Regions from separate parts of the Homo sapiens genome. Here region 2 is linked to region 1. A link means that fine-mapping ties the variant in region 1 to the expression of a gene that starts in the linked region. Tissue or cell type: aorta. Region 1 holds a variant in brackets; the other region holds the start of a gene. All regions are shown on one strand. Distances are between the middles of the regions.

Region 1 (5,151 bases):
CTGCATTGCCTAAAATTTGAGAGATCCAAAAGTTGGCATAAACACTTTACAACTGCCTTTGAGCTAGCTCCTGCCATCAAAACCATAAACTAATCCCGACAATTGAATATTATGAAAAAAATTAACAAACTGGGCTTTAATCAAAATTTTAAACTTTATTTTTTTAGAAGCCTCCTTAAGAAACAAGGAAAAGGTAAGCCACAGACTGGGGTAAAATATTTCCAATAACTACATCTAACAAAAGGTCCATATCTAAGATTTATATTTAATCTATAAAGAAAACTAAGAGGACAAACTCCATTTTTTTAAATGGGGAAAGGTTTTGAACAGATATACAAATGATCAATACGCATTTGAATAAGTGCTCAACGTTATTATTCATCAAGTAAAACCACAATGAGTAGCACTACAAGCTCACCAGAATGGCTAAAATTTAAAAACTGACACCTCCAAATGTTGGCCATGATATGCAGCCACTTGAACTCTTTATTATAGCTCATGGGAGTGTAAAACCATGCAAATACTTTGGAAAAAGACTGAGATGTTTCTCTCAAAAGTAAACACAAGACTGACCTAGAACCAAGCAATTCTACTCCTAAGGCATTTACCCAAGAGAAACAAAAGCCTATGTCTACACAAAACTTGTACATGAATGTTCATAAAGCTTTATCCTAATAGCCTCAAACTAGAAACGACACAAACATCATCAATAGGTGAATAAATAAATGAGATATAATCCCCTTTAAAAGAATTACATGGGCCGGGCATGGTAGCTCATGCCTGTAATCCCAGCACTTTGGGAGGCCGAGGCAGGCAGATCACGAGGTCAGGAGTTCAAGACCAGCCTGGCCAACATGGTGAAACCCCATCTCTACTAAAATACAAAAATTAGCTCAGTGTGGTGGTGCGTGCCTGTAATCCCAGCTTCTCAGGAGGCTGAGGCAGGAGAATTGCTTGAACCCGGGAGGCAGAGGTTGCAGTGAGCCAAGATTGTGCCATTGCACTGCAGCCTGGGCAACAGAATAAGACTCCGTTTCATAATAATAATAATAATAATAATTACATGTTATATTTTTGAAACATCATTAATCAAATGACATCATCACGATTTTTTCCTTTGGAGGAGTAAGGAAGAATCATTATTCATGCACTGAAATATTTTTGTTGTCGCAAATATCCATTATTCCAGATACCGTACTTGGTAATGGTTTAGATATACAATGATGAGCAGATTGGGTATGGCTACTGCCTTCACTCACAATCACATGACAAAATTTCTGAGTTTACAAAGACAAAAGTGTTTATGGACTGTTTATATTTGTGTGTTTGTTAAACAGCAGAGGGGATAGTGATTATTGATCTTGATGTAGCATCTGGAAATAAGTTTCTATTTAAGAATTTGCACTCCACTTAAGTTTGCCTAGGTGAACGTTTTATAGTTTGGGTAGAGAGATGATGGCCACTGAGAAGCTTGGAGCTTTGATGCTAATCTCTGCAGCTTCCTTTAACAAAACTTAGGGTCATTTGATCTTTTTGCGTTTTCATCCCTCCTTCTTTAAAAATAATCCCGATTTTAGGTGTGGGGTGTTAAAGGACCTTTAGCCTGATATAACCACCCACCTTGTATTTCTGACTTTAATAGCACTAGATTGCTTATAATCTGGGCAATTTCTCTGCTTATTTGGCTGCTCACTTCAGCTCACTTCAATTCCTTCTCTTCCTTAAACTGTACATATGTTTTTTTTCCTCCCCCCAGGCTTCCTTTGCTGTTTAACTGTACTTCATACATGCAGGTATCATGTCTTTATGAAGGTTTTCAAATTAAGGAGGGTACCACTCCCCTCTGCCCACCTCTACATACCTCTGTGTGCCTAACTTCATTATATCAATGGATGAAAATCCCACAGCTGAAAATAGGCACTAAAGTACGTCACAATCTGAAGCTGGTCCAACAACATGCTCTAAAGGCTTATAAGTAGTTGCCCAAAAAGTCCCTATCACAATGAAAAACTCCACCTGCTATTTCTAATTCACAAAAACTGACTACTTGAGAGGAGAAGGGAGTCAAAGTCAGATGCCAAATACTTTCCTCAGCAGTACAATCCCTTCCCATGTCCCCTTCCCAAGGACTTCATCACACTCCACCATCCAAGTGAGAAAGGTTTTGAGACATCCATGCACAGAAAGAAGGCATGTATGAAATGAGGGAGATACTGGCAATTCTTGCCCTGGTTGGATGTCTGCTTAGGCAATGGACATGGTTTCTTTCTACTCAAGGGAAAAGAAATCTGGAGAAAGAAGGCACAATCACTTAATTATCACAGTTTAAGCCACTTTACTATTAAATCGCCCAAGAGAGCTGCCTCCCAGCCAAGAGAGACACAGCTGGTGGTTGTGGGGTGGGCCACCAAGAATAGAAGCTGAGGGGGTGGAGGAGGGGGCCGAATGCAAATCTGACTCTGGGGTCAGCTGCTGCTCCCAAGTACCAGTTCTGTATCTCACGAGCTATGTGAGCTTGGGCAAAACACTTAATTTTTCTGAGTCTTAATTTTCTCATCTGTAAAAAGGGATAGTCTAAGTATTGATGTTATAGGATTTTAATGAAGCTTACACAAAATACTAGAAAAAAATATGCTTCACACAGCACTTAGCATGAAATGAAAGCATATTTAATGGTACTAAATATAATAATTGTGTTCTCTGCTTCTAAAACAGACTTTATCCCAGATCTTTATTGGAGTTGGAGTCCTGAACCTTCTTTCCCTCTCCCCTCACCCCTGGCATGCCTCATCCAACCAGTGCCCAGCTTAGTTTCAAGGTCTCGGTCCTTCTTATCCTATTGCTGCATATCTTACTGTAGTTTAATTAGCTATGTCTGCCTGTGTCCACATATCATTAAAGAGCTGAGTTTGGTAGTGCAAACATTCTTATCCTGCTTTCTAGAATACTCTGAATTGTGTGATAAGAAGGTACTCTGGAGACTTGCAACAGCCAGACATTTAG[C/T]AAATCCCAGTGCCCATATTTTGTGAAGAAAACACACACCCTGAGTGTAGCGGTGCTGCAAAACTCATAAGACAGAGCACAGTAAAAATACTAAGAGGCTGAACATACCAATGGAAAATGACTAGGCCATGTATAATAATAGAACTTTGACCTGCAATCTGCAGCAGCAGTCCAGGAAGCCAGGCTGTTCTAAGTCAGACTTGAAGGAAGCCAAATTGCTGTCTCGTTACAATCCAGGAAGCCAAACAACAACCCCTGTAGCATTTGGCCCCAAACAACAACCCCTGTAGCATTTGGCCCCAAACAACAACCCCTGTAGCATTTGGCCCCAAACAACCAGGGCTTGATTAGTACCTGACAGCTTCCCTAATTGTCGTCCCTGCTTACAACAAACCAAAGAAATCCAAATGTGCACCCCTAACCAAATAGGTAGGATGCACTACCTCTTAGCTCACCTACAGCTTCCCTGTGTCAACAGCTTCCAATCAGGGCATACTTGAAGCCTGCCCTTGCTGCCTACTATAAAGTTTTCCCACTCTTCTGCCAACCTTTCAGCCTCTGCCAAATGCGAGTGACAGTGGCTGACTCCTATACTACAGCAAGCTTTGAATAGTCTGCTTGTCCTGATTTGGTCTCTGTTTATTTCCACAATATTTAAGTACAAAATCTTATTTCAGTTTTATCTTAATGAAATTTGGCCACATATTAAGCTTTGGCTATGTGGTATCATGCATAATGGCTGGTCTCACTGTGGGGTACCACAGAGGCTTAAGCTTAACCTTTGGCATCTCGAAGGCACCCAAAAGTGAAACACAGCTGAATAAGAAATATCAAGACCCCAGAGTACCTGCCGGGAAGGAATCAAATATTTAACAAGCTCTAAAAGTGAATGAGGACTTTGCCCTATTCTAACTAGGTTAACTCTAGGAGAAGATGACCTGGCTGATCTGTAAGGTAATTAGCAAATGTCACATTAAAATTAGTTACACAGTCTGATGAACCATTGAGTCCCACTAACATCATCATAAATAGTCAACTCTTTTTCTCTATTTTTATGTTACCAATAAATCCCAAATGTATTGGGAATTACCAAACTTTCTGCAACAATTTTTATTGGCTATTTTTCCCTAATCTCTATATAACATCATTTTAAAAATAATGGAAAGTTAGGCCAATCTATTATTTAATAAATAGAGTATTTGGGCCTATTAAGAAATGTTCAACTTTGTTCAAATGATTACCTCTATTTCTTTTATTTTAAGGCCAAAAGAACTAAGCTGTTTCAGAGGGTTAATTGGTATGAGCGAGGCGGGGAGACGGGAGACCAATCGTACCATCCCATGGAACTTGGAAGAGAATTACTCTTAAACTTTTTTTCAAAGTATATTTTGACAATAATATCCCCAGGCTATAGAGCTAAATTGCTTTGTTCATTTATGAGGATCTGTGTCTCCTCAGTGTCTTTAACTCCCACAGGGGAACAATAAAGCCAGAAATAGTGGTCATTATTAATCCCCACTACAGTGGGGAGTTCAAAATAAGGCCTGCTTGTCTTAGACAATAGTTTCATATATTAAGTTATTTTATATATGTATGTAAAGAGAGAACGAGATTTAAATTTGTTCCATCTGCAGCCTCTTGTGCCTACACAGGGAGCATCAGTGAGTGTAGGTGGCAGCTAACAGCACCTCCCTCTTATTCTTTAGGTCTCAAACTCTGCATGACCATCATTTCCTCCCAGAAGCTAATCTGCCTCCCCCCATCCTCCATCCCCTAACCCCACAAAGTTCTACCTCTCTTTGCCCCTTCCCCTACACATTACATTGTTTCACTTTGGCATTTGTTTAGTATGACTGTCTCTTTAACATTTGTTTCCCTAATAAAACTGTAAGCTCCATCATGGTAAAGACCTAGCACAGTTTTGCTCACTTTTCCACAGTGCCAGGTTCTTAGAAGGGACTCAAATATTTTTTGAGTGAATAAACATATTAGTGCCTGTGGGGTGTGGTTGGAGTGGTAGAAGACTGAGAGAAAGAAAACTAAACTTTTCTACTTCAAAAAGCAAGAACTGAGGAGTTAATACAAGCCAAACAGCAAGGAGGCCCTGGTGCCCAGGTAATGGATTAAAAAAATGGTGGGTGGGCAACA
Region 2 (5,151 bases), 200 kb after region 1:
TGCCAGCTCTGACATTGTAGGATTTTTTTTCTAACCTCCAAGAATTTTGATACTAAAATTAACCATTGAGGAGTGGCACAGACTTTCCTTTTGCCTAAAGAGGCCAATCCACAGTAGGCTATGGCTTCTCTGTGGCCTCAGCTGTAGCATTTCAGCAACAACCTCTCAATCTGCCATCTGGGAGACCACCCGAGGGGTGGTAGAACATCTCCAAAAAAGTGTACACCCCAAGTAAGCACTAATTTACATTTATGGTGTAGGACAGAACTTCTCTGTTTCTCAAAACCAGTTTGGTTTGAAGATTATCACCCTGTTGACACTAGCTCATTCTGTGAAACTGACAAGCCCACACACCTTTGGTGAAAGAATTTGTTTCCTACCCATTATCTGAGAGCCCATGAGCAGTTTAATGAATATACTGATGGAGGATTCCCTGGCACAAGCTTATCTGAACAAAGGCCAATAATATTCCACCCCATGCAGAATCCTATCAAAGCAATGCATTAATTGATTAAAGCAATTAAAAGAAAGTCTCCACCTCAAATAGGCAACAAATGCCACCAAAACTGATTAAAGAACACTGTCCAGTGACCTCAACCATGCACTGAAAAATCTAGTGAGTGACAACTTTTTAAAGGTCAGTGTGAAACAAGTAATCCTTATGAACATCAAGGCAATTCTTTCACTCTGATGAAGCAGTTAAATAGTGAAGGTCATGGGGCTTTAGCAGCCACATAAAAGAAAGAAGGAAAGCAATTAGACAAAATGGATGCTGTAATCCCACTTTCCAGGCCCCAGAGTCTCGCTGAATACAGAGCTCCTGCTTTACTGTTCAGAACTCTCCCGCTTCACTGTTCAGAAACTGGAAGCAGATTCCAAATGAGAATTCCATAGCTTGATTCCACTCTCACCAAAAGCTGACTGCGTGTTTCTTAGGAATGTCTATAGCCTTGGGAGGTAAAAATAAAATAAAATAAAATCAATGGATGATGCTATGAACTTTACACCCAGTTTGGAATTCCAAAAATATTCCTCCATTGCTCAGGACTGTTGCTGAATCCTACCCAGCCAGGTTTGCTGTACTGCAGGGAATGAATGTCCAGATCTATGGATCGCCAGGGTTTTCCAATCAAGTGGGAATCCAAGGACCAGCATGGACTAGCAGCATTGGCATCACTTGGAAGTGCTTTCAGTATGGAGATTCTCAGAACCCGCCCCAGACCCACTGTATCAGAACCGCAACCACATTAAAATGTGAGAAACACTGACCTACAGGACCCTACAGGGCACTTTTGTTTTGTTTTGTTTTCTGTTTTGTTTTTATCCTTCTTCTAGCCTGAGTTTCCTCAATGGAAAGATGACAGAGTGTACACACAAAACAAACCAAAACTGAAGGAGGGCAGTTGTTGACATGATCATGGGGGTGATGAGTCTTCTCCCAGTTCTAACTTCTGCAGTCAGCATCGCTTCTTTTGTAATCACGGGAAAATAATTTTCAAATGGAGCTAACCCTCTCACAACATTGTACTAATGATCTTTAAAGCGACGGATTTAGAAGCGCTCAGCACCACGCTTGCCACACTGCAGGGCAGACACTTCAGAGGTGTTAGGTGAAGTGGATGGAGCCAGCACGCTGGCCTCTCCCACTCCGACAGCTGGCGAGCAGCTCTTGTCCACCAAAACTTCCCCGGGTAGATTCACCCACCGGTCCTGGAAACCTGCTAAATCCTGAAGGTTCACAGAACCTCTGGTCAGAACTGAAGTTGCAGCCGGAGCTTCCCGCAGGCTCTGTAACTTTCCCTGGAATGAAATAAATAAATAAAGACCGTAAGTGCTGAGATAGCGGGCCCCAAGATATTTTTAGTCCTCTGCAATCAGCCACTAGAGGAAGGGGGAGGGAGAAGGGAGTAAAAAAGTTTTGATCCGTTCGGGAAGGGGCTCGAAGAGAACCCTTGGGAGAAAGCAGTAGCCTCAGCTCCAAACTCAGCGAGCTTTTCTCGGCTGGCGTTTTGTCTCCTATAGCGTAGACTGTAAGAGAACAGAAAGGAGTTTCCCGAGAAGATTCAGGCTGGCGTCCTGGGCTGGCCCGTCCCTTCTGGCGAGCCTCAGTGTCCTCCCACGCGCTTCTGCCTTCCAGCCTCCTCCCTTTTTCGGGGGGCTGGCGGGAGGCATCCAAGGCACGATGTATGTGCGCTCGCGCTCGCGCAAATACGGCCGGAGGAGTCCTGTTCCTCGGGCATTTTCCGAGGAAGTCTGGATCAATTAGGCTCAGTCCGGGGAGAGCCAGCGAGCGCGCGGGCGGCGTAGCCGGCCTGTCTGGGCCGCCTCGTGGGGAGGGAGGGGGCGCCCGGCCGCCCGGCGGCGACCCCGGGGCCTGGCCGCCACCATGGGCTTCGAGCTGGACCGCTTCGACGGCGACGTGGACCCGGACCTGAAGTGCGCGCTGTGCCACAAGGTCCTGGAGGACCCGCTGACCACGCCGTGCGGCCACGTCTTCTGCGCCGGCTGCGTGCTGCCCTGGGTGGTGCAGGAGGGCAGCTGCCCGGCGCGCTGCCGCGGTCGCCTGTCGGCCAAAGAGCTCAACCACGTCCTGCCGCTCAAGCGCCTTATCCTCAAGCTGGACATCAAGTGCGCGTACGCGACGCGCGGCTGCGGCCGGGTGGTCAAGCTGCAGCAGCTGCCGGAGCACCTCGAGCGCTGCGACTTCGCGCCCGCGCGCTGTCGCCACGCGGGTTGCGGCCAGGTGCTGCTGCGGCGCGACGTGGAGGCGCACATGCGCGACGCCTGCGACGCGCGGCCAGTGGGCCGCTGCCAGGAGGGCTGCGGGCTACCCTTGACGCACGGCGAGCAGCGCGCGGGCGGCCACTGCTGCGCGCGAGCGCTGCGGGCGCACAACGGCGCGCTCCAGGCCCGCCTGGGCGCGCTGCACAAGGCGCTCAAGAAGGAGGCGCTGCGCGCTGGGAAGCGCGAGAAGTCGCTGGTGGCCCAGCTGGCCGCGGCGCAGCTTGAGCTGCAGATGACCGCGCTGCGCTACCAGAAGAAATTCACCGAATACAGCGCGCGCCTCGACTCGCTCAGCCGCTGCGTGGCCGCGCCGCCCGGCGGCAAGGTAGGCGCCTGCTGCCCGCCCCGACCTCCAGCCAGGATCCCTGGGGACCCAGGGCCCCGCCCCATCCCTTTGGGTACAGGGATGCCCCGAGCTTCCCGGGAACATCCTTGCTTCCTCCCTCTTCTTCCACTGCTTACCAGCTGTATCACTACTTGCAGGTCGCTGAACCTGCCTGAGGTGGAACACTGTGGTCCTTTATAGTCTAGACGTAACCGGTAAAGTATAGCTGTACAGCTTCAGGGATTCTGGAAGGACGAAAAAGAATTCACAAGCAAGTGTAGGATAAGAATGAAGAATGCAGCTCCAGAGTCAAAACTGCGTTCAAAGGCTTTGCTGCTCAGACCAGCTAGGGGATCTCGGGCAAGTTGCTTACCCTCTAGAGGTCAGAAACCTATAGACTGACACTTAGGAGAGGAGAGATGGACACATTGGGTGAATTGTATCCGTGCATCCTCTAGGATTCCAGAAAAAAAAATAAAGGGAACCCACAGCCAGTGTAGATTAAGTTAAGAAGGATATCAGAAGAGAGGCCTCTGGGGTAAAAGCTGGATGCAAGCGTGGGCTTTGCAGCCAACTAGCTGGCTGACCTTGAGCAAGCTGCTTAACCTCTCTAAAGTTGGAAACTATGGTCCCTAGAGACGTGGTATACAGAGTAAAAACACAGCCAGGCACCCCTGAGGTATTCATCCAGGGATTTCAGAAAGAATTAAAGGAGCACTCTGCCCCCAACAAGTATAAAGTAATAATTAAGTGTGAGTCCTCTGGAGTTAAAACTGTTTTCAAATCTGGGCTTTTTGCTGACCAGCTGGGTGAGCTTCTGGCTTAATTCCCAGATCCCTCAGTTTCCCTCAGTGCGAAAGGTTTTTGTCAGGCTTCAGGGAGAGAGTTTAGTAGAAGGGCCTCGTACTGTGCCTGGCAGAGAGTAAATAAATGCTCAACAAGTGTTACCTAGAATTATTTTTAACATCTCCACCTGAGCGGTCCCCTTGAGCGAGGGTTTACTTTGCTCCAGGCTGGGTGCTGCATTCTTCCCAGTCATTTCCTTTTTAATCAAGTGAGGTTGGTGTGACCCTTCCCACTTAGTAGATGAAAAAACTGAGGCTCATTAAGGGGCAGTTTCATGCCTGGGTCACAGCTTTTGGGTGCAAAGCTGCATGTTGAACCTTTGCGTGCCCATCTTTCCAGCCCACGTTCTATAAACTATCATGTTGCTCCTCAGTGCAACCACAAGGACCATTTATTGAGTGTTTATTAAGTGCCACCAACAATAGGAAGTACTTTACATGCATTACCTATGTTGTCCTTTGAGATGAGGGAACAGACTCAGAGAAGTTATATAACTTGTCCAAAATTAAGTAGTGACTCAGGGAGCAGAGCCGGACTCAGATTCTACCTCAGAGTTCTCAGTTTTGGGGCATATTGGCATTTTGGGCCCCATAACTCTTAGTTGGGAGGGGAGGTACTGTGCTGTGCATTGTAGGATGTTTAGCAGCATTCTTGGCCTCCCTCCCAAGTCGTGACAATCCAAATATTGTCAAGTGTCCTCTGGAGGGGCAAAGTCGCCCAGGTTGAGAACCACTGGTTTCCCTGATTGCAGAAGCCACATTTTCAACAGCTGGGTACTTCTGCCTTCCTGGGGAGGGGCCTGGGCCTGCTGCCACCGCTCTGGTTGCCTGCTCCAGATGGTGTGGCAGAAAGGGGAAAATATTTGCCCGAGGCTCCCCCAAGGGCCTGTGTCTGCTTTGCCTCTCTCTGCCCTCTCCCAGCCCCCTTTCCTTACGTGCACACCAGGCCTGCAAGTTTTCCGACCTGGCCCCCCTTCCTGGCCCCTGGCCTGTCTGTCAGCTGCAGTCTCAGCAGCTGGCCAGCTCTGGGCGAAGGGCAAATATTTACAGCTCCACAGCTTGCCCAGGACCTCACAGGCACACAAAAGACTGGTGTGAGCCTTCGAATCACCAAAACAGAGGGCAAAGCTTGGTCTTCAATCAGGCGCCAGATTTAGGGTGAAGGAGTTCCCGAGTTTCTGCTGTTTATGCTGTCAT

The links. PIP is the estimated chance that this variant, and not a neighbour inherited with it, causes the effect.
Region 2: PDZRN3 starts here. The variant in region 1 is fine-mapped to the expression of PDZRN3 in aorta (GTEx, PIP 0.98).

Annotation. Positions count from the first base shown.
Region 1 is chr3:73,825,802-73,830,952 of GRCh38, reverse strand. The region is part of intron 2 of LINC02005 (long intergenic non-protein coding RNA 2005); the gene reads right to left. Among named protein-coding and RNA genes, the nearest start is that of LINC02005, 19 kb to the right of the region's middle. The variant C/T (reference allele first, on the strand shown) is at 3,004.
Region 2 is chr3:73,622,061-73,627,211 of GRCh38, reverse strand. PDZRN3 (PDZ domain containing ring finger 3) reads left to right here and starts at 2,271. Exons shown (of 10, transcript NM_015009.3): 1 at 2,271-3,109. The coding sequence starts at 2,387. PDZRN3-AS1 (PDZRN3 antisense RNA 1) reads right to left here and starts at 3,644. Exons shown (of 2, transcript NR_046681.1): 1 at 3,247-3,644; 2 at 1-1,800. RefSeq lists an enhancer at 4,338-4,852.